3 linked regions of the Homo sapiens genome follow. The protein of the gene in region 1 purifies or fractionates together with the protein of each later gene. This does not show direct contact. Each region holds a gene or a part of one and is shown on either strand. Other genes may lie near its edges.

What was found.
Region 2: the proteins of SLC5A8 (region 1) and MTX3 purify together in Homo sapiens (affinity purification with mass spectrometry; 2 studies listed by BioGRID and IntAct, with this or other methods). This does not show direct contact.
Region 3: the proteins of SLC5A8 (region 1) and RAB3B purify together in Homo sapiens (affinity purification with mass spectrometry; 2 studies listed by BioGRID and IntAct, with this or other methods). This does not show direct contact.

The regions. Positions count from the first base shown.
Region 1 is NC_000012.12:101,165,235-101,172,266, reverse strand, and holds part of SLC5A8 (sodium-coupled monocarboxylate transporter 1), read left to right. Parts: intron 1-4,084; coding exon 4,085-4,171; intron 4,172-5,404; coding exon of another isoform or gene 5,405-5,419; exon of another isoform or gene 5,420-5,558; intron 5,559-5,567; coding exon 5,568-5,773; intron 5,774-7,032. UniProt on the Homo sapiens protein: Acts as an electrogenic sodium (Na(+)) and chloride (Cl-)-dependent sodium-coupled solute transporter, including transport of monocarboxylates (short-chain fatty acids including L-lactate, D-lactate, pyruvate, acetate, propionate, valerate and butyrate), mocarboxylate drugs (nicotinate, benzoate, salicylate and 5-aminosalicylate) and ketone bodies (beta-D-hydroxybutyrate, acetoacetate and alpha-ketoisocaproate), with a Na(+):substrate stoichiometry of between 4:1 and 2:1.
Region 2 is NC_000005.10:79,976,216-79,981,294, forward strand, and holds the end of MTX3 (metaxin-3), read right to left. Parts: 3' UTR 501-5,079; downstream 1-500.
Region 3 is NC_000001.11:51,931,701-51,938,732, forward strand, and holds part of RAB3B (ras-related protein Rab-3B), read right to left. Parts: intron 5,713-7,032; coding exon 5,594-5,712; intron 1,743-5,593; coding exon 1,618-1,742; intron 1-1,617. UniProt on the Homo sapiens protein: The small GTPases Rab are key regulators of intracellular membrane trafficking, from the formation of transport vesicles to their fusion with membranes.

The DNA of each region.
Region 1 (7,032 bases):
CCTATATCCCTCCCTGGCAAGACCTTTACTGGTATATTTGCCTAGGGGTCTCTTGGGCCACCACTGTTCCTGCAGCCAGTGCCTCCTAGAGACACTTGGTGCCCCAGCTGTGCCTGACAGCCATCTGGAATGGACAACACCTTGAACTTTGGCTTCATCGGGCCGTGTTCAAGATCACGATTTTGGATCTTTGACAGCACCTCAGCACACACAGTGTCCCCAGACCTAATTGCTTAGTTCTGTGTCCTCCTTATCCTTCTGTTCCATTTTCACCTGTCATTGCTCTGTAATCAAGCAACTCTAAGCCTGCTACCACTGAGTCCATTCAACTCCTTTCACCTGCTCATGTAATCGTGTTTCCAAGCCCCAGTGTGCCCGTGTTCTTTTGCTGCTACTCCGGGTGGCCTGACTTTCCACATCCAACTGTGGCTTCTCCAGACCTATTCACCAATTACTTGGCACTGAGGTCACTGACAGCCTCCACCACATTTTGGCCACCCACTGAGCAGCTAACCTTCCAGCCTGCTGGGCATGCCTTCATTGGCCTGCCACACATCCATTGCTTCCCGTCCAGACTTGGTCGCTACCTGTCCTCCACTCTTCCCCCATCATTGGCGAGTCTGCCCCAAAGCCACAGCCGAACCCCATTCTCATGATCTCCCCTAACTGCTCAGCTGGACACTAGATCTACTGTATCCTCTCTGTGATGATACAGTTCATTTCCAGGTTTTTCCAAGGGCGCCACCAACTCCTACTCACCGTCCTACAGAAGATCCATTTCTCAAGATTTGACTGACCATGGAGCGCACTTTCAAACTTGGGCAGCCTCTCAATTATTGACCCCCTCAGGGTCAGGGGTGGAGTGTGGTATACAATGAGATATATTATGGCTATAAGATTAATGATAGGCATAAGGCCACTCAAGCAACTCAGAGGGTCAGTCCTATCTGTCAAACTTAGCAGTATGAAGCAACCTGGCCGGGGATTTCCAACCAGATTTCCAGGAGACCAGGTCACCTCAGCACGATGCAATTTTCACAAACCTTGGAACAAAGCTTACCCTTACAAGCATAGCTTAATCTCTCTTTGTGAACAAAACACCTGGTAACTGACCTGGATTGAATACAAGTATAAGAAAGGAGGAAGGATCCCCTAAACTCTGAGAAAGGTCTCTAGATGAAAACCCTCCTGGTCTGTCAGTCATCTAACCTGTGACTAAATCTGGCCCACGACACCATCCTGCTCCTGCTATTCTTCTGGTAAGAGCACTGCCAGAATAAAATGCATGAGCATCAGACGGTGTACAAGACTCAACAATGATGCAAAGCGAACTCAAGGGAAGAGGCTTCCCTGGGAAGCTGGTTAACTAGGACCACCCGAAACACGCGAGCACCACAGGGTGGAATTCACTGACATCATGGAGGAGGTGGCTTTGTCACTGCTGGGCCATGGTGAAAGTCCCGATTCTCCACTAGGCCTCCCATGTCATTGCCAGCAGGGAGGCAAAGGGTGCCTGGTGACAGTCTGGGGGGATGGAATCTAGGCTGGCATGGGTGTGGGTGGGGTGAACAGATTATTCTGTGGTGTTCGGATGGAATGGAGCGGTTGGGGTCTAAGAGTTTTCTATCTTCCTAGGCTGCTCCTTTCCTGGCCCTGTGTCTAGAGAGAGAACAGGATTTTGTGAGGGCTTTTTATCTTTTTAAAGTTTTTTTGCCTGTGTCTGTTGCCATTTCCAGGCTGGCTGGCTTCTTCAGTTCTCAGGCTGGGATACATGAAGCAAAAAGAAAACTTAGGGAACTCACCCTGTACCATTCTTCAGGTCCAGGGTCCCTAGCGGGCTGCCTTCTTTGCACCTTTCAGAGTCTTCTTATGTTTATTTTATATGGAATGTCAGGATTTTTAATTTTATTAGTAGGAGGAATAGAGAAACATATGTTTATCTTCTCAGAAGTAGAAATACTTCATTAAAAAAAATTTGTTTATTTACCTGAAGGGTCTTTCACCTCCTGTGGCGTTTGCTCTTCTGATTAGAGAGCATTTTTGTGTTGGAAAGCTCCCTCCTGTTCCTGTGGAGCTGTGGGCCTGGAGAGGACAGACCAATCTTTACAACAGTGTCTTCTTCCTGAACCCTGTGGGCACCTCACTGTCTTCAACACGCAGGCCTTGGCATAGACTTCTCCCTCTGCCTGCAACACCTTCCTCTCTACCTCGTCCACTGCCTAAGCCTTAGTTATTCTTCAGTTTTCATTTTAACACATTACTTATTTAAAGAGACTTTTCCTATTACCTGGATACATTTGCATTCCCTTCTGCTAAATGTTTCTAGAAGCACCTTGTACTTTCTTTATCATCTCCATTATCAAACTGTATTACAGTTATTTATTTAGTGTCTGTTTTACTGAATAGCCTGTAATTCATGAAGGTGGGGAAGATGACTTCGTTGTTCAATCCTGTATCAAATATCTGGTTCCTACTGCAGTGCCCAGGACAAAGCAAGACATTAACAACTTTAGCTTGAATATTAACTAATAATGTAGTTAGGCTCATAAATATCCTATTATCTGATGACCCCAAGTGCTCCCTGAAATTTCCTTGGCCACTTGGGCTGCTCCTCTGGGATCCTGGACCTCCCCTTGACCTAGAAACTTAAAGGCTAGTACTGGCACAGCAGGGGTCCTCCAGGATCTTTCTTCAGTCCTAAGGCTTGGGGCCATTCTGGTTGGTTGTTGTTTAGGACATAGCAGTTGTAAAATAGTTTGACCCCATCCCTGATTATATGAATGAATGAATTAGATCCAGAAGCTCCAAGCCTGCCCAGCACTCCTAAACCACAGCCAGTCATACAGAATTTGCTTTCTTCATAGTCTGCATTAGTGCCTGGAGCTCTTATTGTGGTTGATTCCCCTTTTTCCATATATCAGCTATGGCCTGATTATATACAATGACATGTTCTAGCAAAGTCATCATAACTCCAAGCCAGTTCATCCTTGCTTCATCTCTAGCCAAGGTCTTATTTCCTCTTGTAATCTTTTTTGGGTGTCTTTGTTATGTCTCCAAAACTGCTCACAGATCACACAGTCATCACTTGCTTTGTGGGTCATATGACGTCTTGCAGTGAAGTCTATCTCCCTTCTGACTGGACTGTGTGTAAACTGACTCAGGATCACATCCTTGAGTCCGCATCCTTTTAAACACTAGTTCTCCTCTCTACTCAGTACCACATCCTTTTCTTCTTCCATGAAGTAGGCCTATTTAAAACAACAACGACAACAAGAAGCACTATTTCCTCTAATATTTCCCTGACTTGGTATTTTCTCTTTGATTCATTCATTCTGCTCTATTAAACCCCTTTACTCTCTGGACAAACCAGTGATTCCCTGCTCTTCTTTTATGGTTGTGTCCATTCTTAAGAACTGGGCATTAGATTATTGGGAACGTATATCTCTTGGAAGCTTCATTTAGTTGCTTTGCCTCATGCGATGTTTGCACTGTAAATCTTTTTTACTATCATGGATTTGATATCTCTACATCAAAGCAAAGGTTGCAGTTATCTAATTAGATTTTAAATCTATTTCTACATGATTTGATCAGTCTTTTTAAAATCGTATTTCTCATTCTAGTTTCATCCTTAGGGAATCAAATCAGGAATGGCAAATGGGTTTCATCCTCCTCTCTGGTCACATAGCAGTACTCGTCCACCGTTATGAGAGGATTTTGAGATTATCAAAGCACAAAGGAGTGCTGTGATTTATAAACACCTGCAAGAGCAATGCTAAGAGGAGAGGTATCATTCATGATTTATACATTCACATAGGCACTACCATTGTCGCAGACCTCTCTATCTTCTTTGTGTTGTGTGGCCTTTTTTGAGGCTACTTGCAGAAACAGATGGATCCTTGAGACTGAGATGCAGAAACTTGTAAGTTCTAATGACTTCTTTTCCAGTGATAAGGCTATCATGACTGAAACTATGATTTTCAGAAGGAGGCCGAATACTTTAAGTCATTATCCTGATGAAATGACTTTGAAATATTTGAGTTTCGATTTGAGATTGCTAATTGCTGACGTTGTATTATTTTTGTAGGCAGCACTCAGCGTATTTGGTATGGTTGGTGGACCACTTATGGGCCTGTTCGCTTTGGGCATTTTGGTTCCCTTTGCCAACTCAATTGTAAGTACAAAGAATGAATATGCTTGAGGATTACTTTTTGAACTATACTAGCAGCTCTACACTTTTTTCTCAGTTGGTTCCTTTGAGATTTGTCATTAGCTACTTGTCTTGATGACTTAAATTATTTCTGTTGACTTTGGTGGAGTGTACAAGGAAGTACTATGTATGGGGACCCTAAATGTGTGAAGCTCAATGGAAACTTCCAGAACCATATAGGGCAATTTTAAATATTCATAATATAACTAAAGGAGCAACATTTTTATGCACGTACCTACTTGCCCTTCTCAAAAATTAATAGCTAGGATTTAAAAGAGATCAATAGGCTCAGAGATGAGAGATTTAAGGGCAGAAAACTTAGGATTTCTGTGAATAGCCATAGCACAGCAAAGAGAAGGAACACAATCTTACCACCTTGGCCAGGAATTTTCTACTCCTGACATTTAAAGCTGTAGCTCCCACAACATGATTTAGCCCCAAAGGGGTGATCATAATTGGGAATATTTTCCAGAAAGACGTAATATCTCTGTCCTTCTACCTAGACATATCTGTGCTTAGAAGTGCTAACTTTTGTTTGGAATAAATGAGCTAGAAATTATTTCTCTGAAACCCAGAAGAAAGTCCACTGGTTCAGTCTGGCTATAAGATGTAGTTCAGGAAAAACTGATAATGTATGTGCAGTCGCTTCAGATATAGAATAGCCATAGAACTCTGACTTCACATTTGGAATTCTATTTTCCTTATAAGGCATTAGGAATTGGTAAGGCAGATATTAATAAGGACTATTGTGGTTATTATTTATTATCCTCAATGAAATGTCATATGAAAAGCTGCTTTTGTAGGAATTAATCACAATGAAAGAGATTTGTTTGTGTCCACCTCAGAATGTTGAAGCTTGGATTAGATTCTTTGCGTGATGAAATGCATTAGTTTGTTAAGTATTAGAAAAATGTATTTAAAAATCAACTTTTGATATTTGGCATTTGTTGCCAGCGTGTATTTCCTCCGGAAGAGCTGTAGCTGACTAAGCTAACATGTCCTTTTCTGGGGGCGGTAACGGAAGAATAACATACTATTCTTCCTGCCATAAACAGTATCTTTTTTTTTTTTAAACCATGTCCAGGTTTTTCACCAGCAGATTATCTGCCTTCCTTAAAAGTGGCCTTTCTCACTCCTTTTTCTCTCCCTGCCTCAATACCTTTCATTCATTTATTCACTTGTTCATTTATTCAATAGATTTTTATGGGCTGAGCACTATCTTGGGAGGAGAGAGCGTTGAATGTTTCTGCCCTTGTGAGTTTTATAATTTCGTGCCATGTTGAACTTGGCTTTCTAATATTAATTTTGACATCAAAGCAAATTGTATTATTTTTCTTTTAAAGGCATTCTTGTTTTACAGGGAGCACTTGTTGGTCTGATGGCTGGATTTGCCATTTCTCTATGGGTTGGAATTGGAGCTCAAATATATCCTCCACTTCCTGAGAGAACATTGCCATTGCACCTTGATATCCAAGGCTGTAACAGCACCTACAATGAGACAAATTTGATGACAACCACAGAAATGCCATTTACTACTAGTGTTTTTCAAATATACAATGTTCAAAGGTATTGAATTAAGTTTTATTACATTATACTTTAAAAAATTTACGCAACAAGTAGAGAACCCCACTTGCTTTTTGTCTTGCTTACAACACTGTGATTTTGCCTAATTCTGAAATGAGTAAAACCCATGTGGTTAGCTATAGTATTTTCTGCAGCGGTAACAAAAAATGTCATATTTTCATAATTTCTCTAGAAATTTCTGCCTTGTCTACAGATCTAAGAAAACTTAAATATTAATGAGAAACTTCTGTTATGTGTAAACTCTCCTAAACACCAGCTCTTAGCTGCATGAAGAATTATCTTTGTCTTGGAAAAACTTTTAAAATGGAAAGCACAATTATAGAATAAATATTGCTTATATAGTCTTAGAAAGATAGATTTTACTGACCAAAAGCTACAATTATTTAAACATGTTAAATAACTGCCATTTGTTCAGTTGAAGATTCCAAATCTTTAAAGCATTAGAAGTGATTGCAGCTGTGATCTTCATGCTACAGATTTCAGTCATGCAGTACACTTTGGAGCCTCTAAATGCTGAAGTTGTCTGATTTAACGTACTGAAATAGTGGGTAGAGGCATGCTTTATTGTACAGTGAATGTGAGGTCAAGACTTTCTTTAGTGGATATATAAGTGTCCAGCTTTAAAGCACAAACCCTGTGAATACGTTCAAGGAATGCAAAGATGATGCCATTGCCCCTAGAGTATTGCCCCAGTGCCAGCTTATCTGGAATGACATCAATATAGTCATACCTTTGGGGTCAAGACACGGCATACCCCTCTTAAAATGGACACACTCCTGAGAGAAGGAACGTGATCATACATATAGCCATTATTAGCAATTTGTGTTCTGGAGAGAATTCAGCTATGAGAAAGCTAGCCAGTGGGACTTCCAGGGGCGTTCCAGGCAGGTAAGCTGTGTATGGTAGAGTGGAAAGGTAGTTCCAGAGCCTGAGGCGTATTTGAGGGAAGTTTTACTAGGTGAGGTGCTGTGGAGAGAGGGGCAAGGACATGTGGAGAGCAGTCTGGACAGGCATGAAAGCACTAATGGGAGGGGACTGGGAGAGTCATCAGAGTCAGAAAGGGAGAAAAGATTAATTGAAGGTTAAGTGAGAAGACACAGGATGTTCTTCTTGTTTTATGATTTTGCTTAGCGTTTTCCTAATTATGTAAATATTTGCCCTTAAAAGTCTAAGGCAAAATGGTTATTTGGATTCCTGAAACAAATAAATTAGCTGAAGTTTATTCTATGCCTGGTACCATA
Region 2 (5,079 bases), on another chromosome or scaffold:
CACAAGTGGTCTCAACACATAACAGAAAGAATGGACATTTTCTGGCCAGGCACGGTGGCTCACGCCTGTAATCCCAGCACTCTGGGAGACCGAGACGGGTGGATCACCTGAGGTCAGGAGTTCAAGACCAGCCTGGCCAACATGGTGAAACCCCGTCTCTACTTAAAAAAAAAAAAAAAAATACCAAAAAAAAAAAAAAAAAATTTAGCCGGGTAAGGTGGCAGGTGCCTGTAATCCCAGCTACTTGGGAGGCTAAGGCAGGAGAATTGCTTGAACCCAGGTGGCGAAGGTTGCAGTGAGCCGAGTTCACACCATTGCACTCCAGCCTGGGTGATAAGAGCAAAACTCTGTCTCAAAAAAAAAAAAAAAGAATGGACATTTTTTAAAAACCCACTATGTCTATAGCTCAGTCCCAGCCCTGAACAACCACATTCAACCAGCAAAAAATTCTTCGCGATGAAAAGATTTACCTCAAAGAATAAATAACATTAAATCGAGAATTCATAAGCAGTCAGGAGATTTGAGATTTTTATTGAGAAAATAGCTATTTTGACATTATATCCAGTTTCTCATTTATCAGAATAAATTCTTTACAATATTGATCACCATCACCACTTTAGTGTATTTGTACATAGTCTCTGAGTAAAATATATTCACACTCGGCAAGGCTAGAATATTGAAATTATGGCCAACATTGCTTACTTTAAGATTGTTTACTTTATAAAGAAGCTAGAGTAGTTGTGCAACTAGAACAGATGTTTTTAAAATGTTTGCCATTCAAAGATAGGCTTGGTGGGACAAAACTAATATGCATACTACATACATATATTTCTTGTCTTCTTTACTGTCAATCTTTCAGAACAGTAACATGACATTACAAACACCTCAAATTCCCACTTCAAAATGAACAGAAAAATGGAAAAACATTATTTCCCATTTCATAAAATTAAAAATCAAGTCAGAAGAGAAGTAAAACTCATTTTTATGCATTTAACTTAAAAGCTTGAATACACGACTCCTCCTAGAGAGAAGGAAGCCAGAACTTCAGAAGTAGCCAGTGGTCCAAAGAATAAATGGCCCCATGACCTTCTCTATGGTTCATGACTTACTGAGGGCTGATGCAAACTCTGGCAAGTTATTTTTCATGATTTCCAAGGATCTGGGATATGTAAACGAAATGATTAAAAGACATTTCTCTGAATTTGCAAGAAGACGACTGAAGAATCAGAACAAAGATCCAACGGCCTTTCACGTGGCTACATGTTCACCATTACACCACAACTCAAAACCCACAGGCGAGCTTTCTCTCAAATACACATTCAAAATGGTGTTCCAAATAATCCAATTGTATACATTGCAAAGACACACAAAATGCCTCCTTACACACGATTAGTAATCTGGTTTTAGACTCTGAAGTGATACCAAACATATTTAGCTAACCCTCTCAAAATTGCAGGCCTAGTGAGGTTTAAATGTTTTAGGATATAGAATCTGCTTAGAATTTAGTGAAAACTATGAACCGTAGACTGTCTTCGGTAATGAACAAAACTGGAAAATATTAAACTTCCTTTGCTTTGTCACTGAGCAACTATAAGCTTTCTATGATGTATGTATCATACTAGCTTGTATGTGACTTTAGTGTCATAAACACCCATTGCCTTTTTGGCACTTTTAAAGTACAGCCAGAAAAGGTTTGGAAAATTGTTCTGGAAATACAAGTTGGTTCCCTCTGTCTCATGGATGCTTAGGAACTGGGTAGTCTGCTGAAACCACCAGTTCAGCAGACCCTTGTACAGCTGTTCCCGGCCAACTGGGATCCTAAGGAAACAGGCTGGAAGAGCCAGGGGCCTCCCTCACAAATGCCTAAATAACCAACATATCTATGCCGACAGCCATCCCTCTCTCAATGCCATGGTCCAAGGGAGTCTTGACCTGTCTCTTCCCATTTTACTACCACTGGCTAGAGGGGCACCCAACAACAAGAAACCTTTGTAATGAGTATGAACTAGCAAAAACACTGTAGGGCAGCATTTCCTTAGGTGTATCTCTCAGAACATAAATCCCACAAGATACCTACTTTTAAAAAAATCTGGCCGGGGACAGTGGCTCATACCTATAATTCCAGCACTGTGGGAGGGTGAGGCGGGCAGAATCACCTGAGGTCAGGAGTTCAAAATCAGCCTGGTCAACATGGTGAAACCCCATCTCTACTAAAAATACAAAAATTAGCTGGGCGTGGTGGCAGGTGCCTGTAATCCCAGTAAATTGGGAGGCTGAGGCAGGAGAATCGCTTGAACCTGGGAGGCGGAGGTTGTAGTGAGCCGAGATCGTGCCACTGCACTCCAGCCTGGGTGACAAGACCAAGACTCCGTCTCAAGAAAACAAAAACAAGAAATCCATATTAAAATAAATTAGGGAAATGATGTATAAAATAGAGGTGCTTCTTGGAGATTTAAAATGCACATTAGCGTATCAAAGGTCTGAAAGGCCAACAGTAACTCAACTTTGTCTAACCCACTATTTCCCAAACTTACTTGGCCACAGAACCCTCTATTCTCCTAACAATATATTCTGACAAAACACTCCTTCAGGAACTGCTTCACCCAGAACCAAACAGGTGAGTTTTAAAAAATATTATAGCATAATTTCAAATGATTAATAAGGATACAAAGAGACTTATTTTCCTGTCTTTTGTTATTTTGTCTACTTATTTTGTTCTGAATAATCTTCTATCACATTTCCCCTTCTATTCACAAACCTTCAACTCGAGTTACCCTTTCTGATACCTTTGTTCAAGAATGTTAATTCTTATCAGAAATCCATGGCACACTAGTCTGGAAAAAAATAATTTTGTGTCTTTTTAAATTCCTAGAGTACCTCTCCACTTCAATCACAATTTAAGTCCAGGGCAGGTATCCTGGGCTCCTAGCAAACACTACACCCCAACAAGAGTTTGGGAGCCAAATTATTTTGCAAACCCTTAAGAACACAAACTAAAACTAATTTATCCTTATATCTCTGCAAAAATTAGCATTTTGAACATCCAACGAAACTTCAAGTTTGAGGATAATGGGCTTACTGACCTGACCTTTGATTTCACGTAACTAACAACAAATTTCTTTAAAATCTGGTTAAGAAATATGAAAATATTGAAAAGTAAACATAAATTCCACAAAGCTGAATGGCAGCAAAAAATATTTCTTAACATCAAGAACATATACAAAAGATGATCATTACCACCCAAATTATCTCTGTTGCTCAGGATTTCAGTTATAAAAATAGCCAAATCAAGACAAAGACAATTACAGCTTAAAACGAAAAGCTACACCTTCTTCATTAAAGGTGAGCATCTTGTCACACTGTGCATATGGAGAGAGAACAAGTACAAGGCACGGGAGAACTACCATGTCAAGGGACAGAGCTTTTTCAAAATATTTTATCCTCAGAAGTAAACCCCACTACCATAGAAAGAAAAAAATATAATTAGATATTTTAAATCACAGCATTTTTGACTTCCTAGGGAAAAGGAGTTTTTGGTTTTAGGGTTTTTTTTTTCTTTTCTGGTAAGGCAAAATAGATCTTTAGATATCATTTGTTACAAACATGAGTTTTTCTTAAGAATGAAATAAAAATTCTATTTAACTTCTATCATATATTTATTCAACTAAGTTGAATACTATGTTTAGAAAATTAAAGTTTTAAATCATGGTTTATATATAGATAATGATACATTTAATCTATGAATTTACTTTAAAACCACTTTTATTTTGAAATACTTAAGACTCACAAGAAGTTATAAAAATAGTTCAGAGAGATCCCAGGTACCCACTGCTTAGCTTCCTTTCTTTACATGTAAGCATTTATATCTAGGTTTTAAAAGGGTTGAAGTTTTTGACAGTTGATGAAAAACTGTCAAAAAATTGTAACAAGCCTGGTAAATGCATATTTTTGGAGGAGGTTCTAAGGAAACACTACCAAGTTCAAGTACCACTTTTATCACATGCAGCTGCCTTAACCAACAGGTTTTCTAAGATACTATCCCCCTTACCTGTTTCTGCCTCTTTCAATGGTGTTTTTCCATTTTTACAGACTTCTGAAAATTTTAGCTTTGATTGAAATAAGCTTCCCCATTCCTTCATGTTAATATATCTAGCAATATTGAATAGAAATTATAAATGGAAATAAAAATGCTTGCTTTTATAAAATCTCCAGTCTCGCAGCACCCCCAATATAATACAAACAAACTTAAGTTGAAATTTGGTTTGTTAATGCCCACCTTGTGTGGTCAAAACACAGTTTTGAAGGAATGACCACCTTCAATGTTCTTTACAGCTTCTTTAGTGTTACTTAAAAAAAAAAAAAAAATCAATCTGATGGATGATTGATGGTAGTTTGTTCATGGAAGATCTTCATCTTATGGGAATTATCTAGTTTTTCTAATCATATACTACCAACAAAAATAAACACAAGCATGTTCCCTTTAATCATATTATCCTCCACCATTACTTCCAAAAGGCATTGGCTCACAGTATTCTGTTTAAGATTGTGGACCATTTATCCCAATGAACTCACTCAAACTTTATCTAAAACATATCATGACAGGCTGGTCCAACAGTCTGTTCAGTCTGAAAAAATGTTCTGTGCTCTGTTCAGATTGACAAAATGTTCTTTTTGGCCGGGCGCAGTGGCTCACGCCTGTAATCCCAGCACTTTGGGAGGCCGAGGCAGGTGAATCACTTGAGGTCAGGAGTTCAAGACCAGCCTGAGCAACATGGTGAAACCCCGTCTCGACTAAAAAAAAAACAAAATTAGCTGGGCATGGTGGCACATGCCTGTAATCCCAGCTACTTGGGAGGCTGAGACAGGAGACTTGCTTGAACCCAGGAGGTAGAGGTTGCAGTGAGCCGAGACTGCGCTACTGCACTCCAGCCTGGGCAACAAGAGTGAAACTCTGTCTCAAAAAAAAAAAAAAGTTCTTTTCTAAGAGCTTCCTGTATGTGTGGCTGCTCCCTAAAGTACTTTGTGCTCAGTTACAGCTTCCTGTCATCTCATTTACTTATACATAAATAGCTCAACTAA
Region 3 (7,032 bases), on another chromosome or scaffold:
TTACGTATGGGGTGCATTGAGAGAACAAATAAAGAGCTCTGGCAGGGGGCTGGGAAAGGTTTCATAGAAGATGTGAAGTGTAAGCTGTTTTGAAAGCTGAGTGGGGTCTCACCAGCTGGATGAGGGTAGAAGATGGGGAGTAGAAGAGAGCATTCCAAGCAGATGAAATATAGTCAGTCCAGGGAGAGTGCTGGGAGCCTCCAGGGAGACTACAGGTTGAAAGCCTAAAGGGACCGTCTAAAGTTCACCAGGTGTGGGCTTCATCACTTGCTTATTGGTCAATGGACCACATGGAGGCACTTTCTGGACTCTGAGAACCTCTGTGATAGTGTAGAGACAGCAAGGCCCAAGATGACCCAACCTCCCTGTTTATTAAGCACTTATAGTTTGCTACAGTTTACAGGACACCTTGGGGAGAAAAAAGTATACAACACACACACACCCACATACTCATAATACAAATATATAAAACACACAATTCACACTTGTATTTTATACAGATTACCCACCTATAAGCCCAAATATCTGTTCTTCAGAAACTGTCAGAGACTTTAAACTCTCCACTCCTCAATACTTACAACACTAAGGATGTGAGATATACTTAGGGAGACTGTCTAAAAGCTAAGCAGTACATCTATTCTAGAGGAAGATTTCAAACTTTCAAACCTACAGGCATGGAACTCTTTTTGTAAGGCAACCTTACCCTGGACCCCAATACATAAAATAAAAGCTCTTCTTTTAAGCAAAGGTAGGTAGAGTTCTGCTTTGGGGCCACTGAGACATGCCTGGGCACCTAGGCCTCAAAGGAGCACAAGGATCAAAATATGTTAAGCTTGGAAAAAGTCAGGACACCGATGAGCTACATACTCAAACCACATAGTTTTGTTCCTTCATACTATTACTTTTGTTGTGAATTGTGTTTTGGTGAGAAGCATGAATTTGCATTGAGATAAACTGTAAGAACAGCATATAAATACTCAGTGCTGGAAGGATGTTTGATATTCAAGACATGGTCACATTCAGCATACAGAGTCTGCTCTACAGTTGATGATGAAGAGTAGTGCTTCTCTGGAATAATGGGTTTGTTTTTATACTAGGACACTCTAAACCATGTAGCTGATTATGTTTCCCTCTTGGCAAAGGTTGCTAGGAAGCTCAAAGACAACATTTTGGCCCCAACTCTTGCAGGTGTCCAAGAACTTAATACTTACCCTAGCTTCCTCTTATTTTTCCCTCACCCTTGCTTTCCCTTTGCTCCAATTTTCTCACTTACTTATTTATTTTTATTGTTGTATTGTGACCATTTTTATAAGATATCTCAAGTCCTTTGTGGAAGGAACTGGTAAAAAAAAAGAGTTTATAAATTTAAAATTTATTTACACATTCAATATAACAAAATATATACATATCAAAAATGATGAATTATCTAAAACTCACAGCACAAAGCCCATATGTACCTCATACAAATATAAAACAATACACACAGATCACATAGGTACATAATTCACAATCACAACACTAATGTCATAAATACAAACACACTCGTACCCTGTTTACCCCACTCTCATGAGCATGTGTACAAATGCACACATGCACATACATGTGTCATGTACATACCAAGCTGCTCTGCAAGGAGCTGGCCCTTCTCAGTGGGAACAACCCTCTCTTCCTCCATGTCACACTTGTTCCCCACCAGAATAACTTGTGCATTGTCCCAGGAGTAGGTCTTGATCTGAGTAGCCCTAAAATGAGATAGAAAGAGATATGTTAATCATATTCCTATAGACTGAATGTCTGTGTCCCCACCTCCAAATTTACATGTTGAAGCCTAATCCCCAATGTAATGGTATTTGGAGGTGGAGTCTTCGGGATGTAATTATGTCAATGAGGCTAGAGTCCTAATAAATGTGTCCATATAAGAAGAGAAAGAGGCTAGAGCCCTCTTTCTCTCTTGGCCATGGGAGGATACAACAAGAAGCTGGCTGTCTCCAGATACTGGAGCTGCTGGCACCTTGATCTTGGACTTCCTAGCTCCAGAACTGTGAGAAAGAAATGTCCGTTATTTAAGCTACCAAGTCTATAGTATTCTTGTTATAGCAGCCCAAACTGACCAAGACACATACCCTCCTATGACAAAAAGAAAACTGTGAAGTGTGAAGAAATGGTTTCTCTTCCACAGGACTAGCAACATCCAAGTTATTGCCAATTAATTCAGCTGAGGACAGACAGATACCTGTCCCTGCTGGCTGTCACAGATGCTGACTCCTAAGCCCTAGCTGCAAACCTCATCCATCTTTTTGAAGTCCACCTCTACCATATCTGGCCATCCCTCTCCTCACTGGGCAGAGAGGTCTTTCTAAAACAGGTATTTGATCACAATGAATCTTTTCTTAAAAGCCTTCTCTGGCCCCCAGCTAGCTATGTGATCAAGTCCAGATTCCTCAGTTCAAGATCACTCATGCTGTGTCTCTCCAGCCTCATTACCCATTCTCCTGCCTCCCTAACCTTTTTACTCATTCCCCAAAAGCTCTTCCATGGCTTGTGCTTTTGCCTACACTGGGAAGTCCTTCCCCACAACTAACTCATCCTCCAGGGCCCAGTGCTGATCCCACAACACCTTGAGGGGAGCCTCTTCAAGCTTCTCCTAGATCCACTTAGCCTCCACCTCCTCCTATGTGATTCATAAACCTTCCCTGAAGCCTCGGATTATGATTATTTGCAGGAACCAAAATGTCAGCAGTGGTTACCTTCATATAAGATGATTATAAGACTTTTAAAAAATACTTTTTGGCCGGGTGCGCTGGCCCACGCCTGTAATCCCAGCACTTTGTGAGGCCGAGGTGGGCGGACCACGAGGTCAGGAGATCGAGACCATCCTAGCTAACATGGTGAAACCCCGTCTCCACTAAAAATTAAAAAAAAAAAATTAGCTGGGCATGGTGGCAGGCGTCTGTAGTCCCAGCTACTCAGGAAGCTGAGGCAGGAGAATGGCGTGAACCCGGGAGGTGGAGCTTGCAGTGAGCCAAGATCGCATCACTACACTCCAGCCTGGGTGACAGAGCGAGACTCCATCTCAAAAAAAAAAAAAAAAAAAAAAACCTTTTCAAATTTCTGTACTTTTCACATTTTTAAAAGTGAGCATGTATTACTTCTTTAATTAAAAACAAAATTTTAAGAGGAAATAAAAAAGGACTCTCTTATATTATGAAGACATCTTTTTGTGGAGATGGGCCTAACATTCCCCAAAGACCCCATCAGGTAGAAATGATTACTTCCTCTTTTGGTCTCCTGCACGTTCACCATGACACCTATTACACTTGGCTGAATTTGTCTCTCTCCCTGAGGGCAAGGACCGGCCTATTCATCTTTGGGATGCCAATACCCAGCACAGAACACACAGCGAAGAAGGTGTCAGTGAATGCTGATAAATGAACGAGCCAGTGAATGGTCAGTCCTGAAGCAGATCTTGAATCTGACTCTACCCTGACACTGACAACCTAACTCAACCCTAACTGCAACCTGAACCTACTACTGACCCTGCTCTTAAAGTTGATCTTACCACCAACCTTCTCATTTATGGTGAGAAGCCATTCCCTCAAAGGATGGAATTCACTCAACCACCACTTCTTGTGGGCCCACAGGAAACCAGGCCCCATTCTGGGCACTGGGGCTTGGATGGCAGGTAGGGGTGAGACTGAGACCAAGTTACCCACAGACAAAACTCAAAGGCCAGGGCTTGGGAGAGATAGACCCTCAGTCTTCAGACTCAAGGCAGGTAACTGGGGCCAGCTCTCCTTATCTCCCATGCTACTCTTTCTTTCATCTTCCTCCCTTCTCCCACCCCATTTCCTCTCAGCTCCCAGGTTAGCAACAAACTCAGGTTATTCTTGGAGGAATCGTCACCAGGTGTTAAAGTCACCGTGTTCCTGAGGCAGAATGAACAGAGACTGAGGGAGGAAGGGAAGGGGGTCAAGGCCAACAGGGAAATGGGCAGCGTGGAGACACTTCAGGGGAGATGTGATGAGAGAGAAGAGGAGGAGCAGGGAGAGGGGAGGAAGGGAGGAAAATGATGAGTGGAGAGAGTAAAGGGAAGGGGAAGAGAACAGAGGAAGGAGAGGAGAAAGACCCAAGGTAGAGGGAAGAAAGAGTTATTTAAAAGGAAGGGACAGAAAGGAGGAAGAAGAGGATAACCAGGAGGCAGAAAAGGAGAACACAGACCCCCAGGAATGACAGACATGCTGATGACACCCTGAACTGCTGGTCAGAACAGGGGAGTGCAGCAGGCAGCCCACAAGGTCACTCTCAGCTCAAGCTGTGTATGTGAAGCCAACACAATTATGACAACTGCTCCCTGGGAGAAGCGAAGTCCTCGAAGGTCACCATTAGGCAAAAGGGAGAAGGAGACAAGCCCAGCACTGGCCAGCACTGCTGCTGTGTGCCTGGTCTGCTCAGCCTCTCCGATTCTGAAGGACAGCCACCACACAGATGTCCCACCTTCCCCCATCCTCATCTGAGCAGGGACACTGGGTCCTGGCCCTCCCTCTCATGTGTCCTTCCCCTCAGGCTCCCTTCTCCTGGGAATCGTGCCCCAGGAAGAAAGCTATAAGTTGCTCAGAGGTTGCAACTCTGGGGTGCTGTACTGATTTCCATTGCATATTGAGCCTTGATGAACTTGGACTGTATGTGCTCCTGGACACCTGGCTCAGCCCAGGGATAAACTTTAAGTGCTATGTGGATTCACTCTCCACTGGAGCTACAGTAATCTTCCTGAAACACAAATGTGAACCTGTTGGTTTCTAATTCATACGTCATCACCTATGGGACAGAATCCAAACTCCTTATAGCAGCACACAAAACCCTTCATGACCTATGCCCTTCAACACTCGCACCTACCTTCTCACCTTTGCACATCTGTACTCATTTTCTGGAACATCCTTATTCATTTGTCCCTCGGGCTAACTCCTGTTCATCTTACAAAATGCAGCATATGTGTCAGCAACTCCAGGGCACTTTCTCTGACTCCCTAAACTGGGTCAGAGAGCCCTCTGCTGGGTTCCCACAGCCCTGATGCCTCGCTTCATCACTGCACCTAGCACACATTTTCTTTTCTTTTCTTTCTTTTTTTTTTTTTAAGATAGAGTCTCACTCTGTTGCCCAGGCTGGAGTGCAGTGGTGTGATCTCAGCTCACTGCAACCTCCGCCTCCCAGGTTCAAGCAATTCTCCTGCCTTAGCCTCCTGAGTAGCTGGGATTATAGGCACGTGCCACCACGCCTGGCTAATTTTTGTATTTTTAGTAGAGACGGGGTTTCACCATGTTGGCTAGGCTGGTCTCAAACTCCTGACCTCGGGTGATCTGGCTGCCTCGGCCTCCCAAAGTGCTGGGATTACAGGCGTGAGCCACTGCACCCGGCCTATCACATGATATTTTCATTCCTGCTTATGGATCTGTCTTCTGCTCTCGTCTGTAAACTCCTGAGGCCAGTAACCATGTCTGATTCATCTGGGCTTCCCCAGCACACAATACAGGACCTAGCACATGTTAGGTTTTAATGAACAGTTTGTTAAATGAATGAATGAATATGGGTCTCATACCAGTCTTGGACAGCATTGAAGGACTCTTCATTGGTGATGTCATACATCAGAATGAAGCCCATGGCCCCACGGTAATAGGCTGTTGTGATGGTCCGGTACCGCTCCTGCCCAGCTGTGTCCTGGGCAGGAAAAGAAAAGAAACAATCTCTTAGAAAGTCTGCTTTGGTTCCTAAAAAGTCCCCAGGACAATTAACTAATAACCCAAGACATTTTTTTTTTTTGAGATGGAGTTTTGCTCTTGTTGCCCAGGCTGGAGTGCCATGGCGCGATCTCAGCTCACTGCAACCTCTGCCTCCTAGGTTCAAGTGATTCTCCTGCCTCAGCTTCCCGAGTGGCTGGGATTACAAGCATGCACCACCATGCCCAGCTAATTTTGTATTTTTAGTAGAGACAGGGTTTCTCCATGTTGGTCAGGCAGGTCTCGAACTCCTGACCTCAGGTGATCCACCCGCCTCGGCCTCCCAAAGTGCTGGGATTACAGGAGTGAGCCACCGCGCCCAACCCAAGGCATATTTAAGGAGCATCTATTATGTGTCTTGTATTGTGCTTGCTGACTAGATTAAAATGATTTTTTAAATCTCATAGAATTTAATAAGAATAATTAAAATCCTAAAGGAAAAGTGGACAAGAGGCATGAACAAGCACATAAGAAATGTTGAGTGGGTAATTATTACATAAAAAGTTTTAACCTTATTTTTGTTTCTTTTTTTTTTTTTTTTTTTTTTTTAAGACAAAGCCTTACTCTGTTGCCCAGGCTGAGAGCCCTGGCACAATCATAGCTCACTGCAAGTTTGAATTTCTGGGCTGAAGCAATGCTCCCACCTCAGTCTCCGAGTAGCTGGGATTAAGGTTTTGTGCCACTGTGCCCAGCCCCTTATTTTTAATAATAATTCCCATGATTGATAAGCATGCAGTGAAATATACAAATTCACATCTTGCTTGTGGGAGTGGAACTTGGTTTAGCCTTTCTGGGAATCAATTTGGAAGTCTTAAGAGCATTAAAAATGTTCATACTCTTTGACCCAGAAATATTCCTTCTGGGAATTTTTCCCACAAAATTAGAAAAATTTTCCCTATAAAAATAGAAAATCAGACAAATATGTATGTACAAAAACACATTTGTTAAAACTTTATCTAGACAGTGAAAACATATCATCAACTTATATATTCAACAATAGGAGAATGGTTAAAATGTAAGAATTTTTATGTAAGTTCATGTATGTAAGAATATTTAACGATATGAGACAATACTTGTATGTGTGATGTATTAGTTTTATAACTATATGTGCACAGAAAAAAATAGAAGAAACACATCAAAAGGTTAATAGAGATTTTCTCTGAATAAGAGACAAGAATTACTGAGATTTTGATTTTCTTCATGTAATTTTTTTTTTTTTTTTGAGACAGGGTCTCACTGTGTGGCCCAGGCTGGAGTGCAG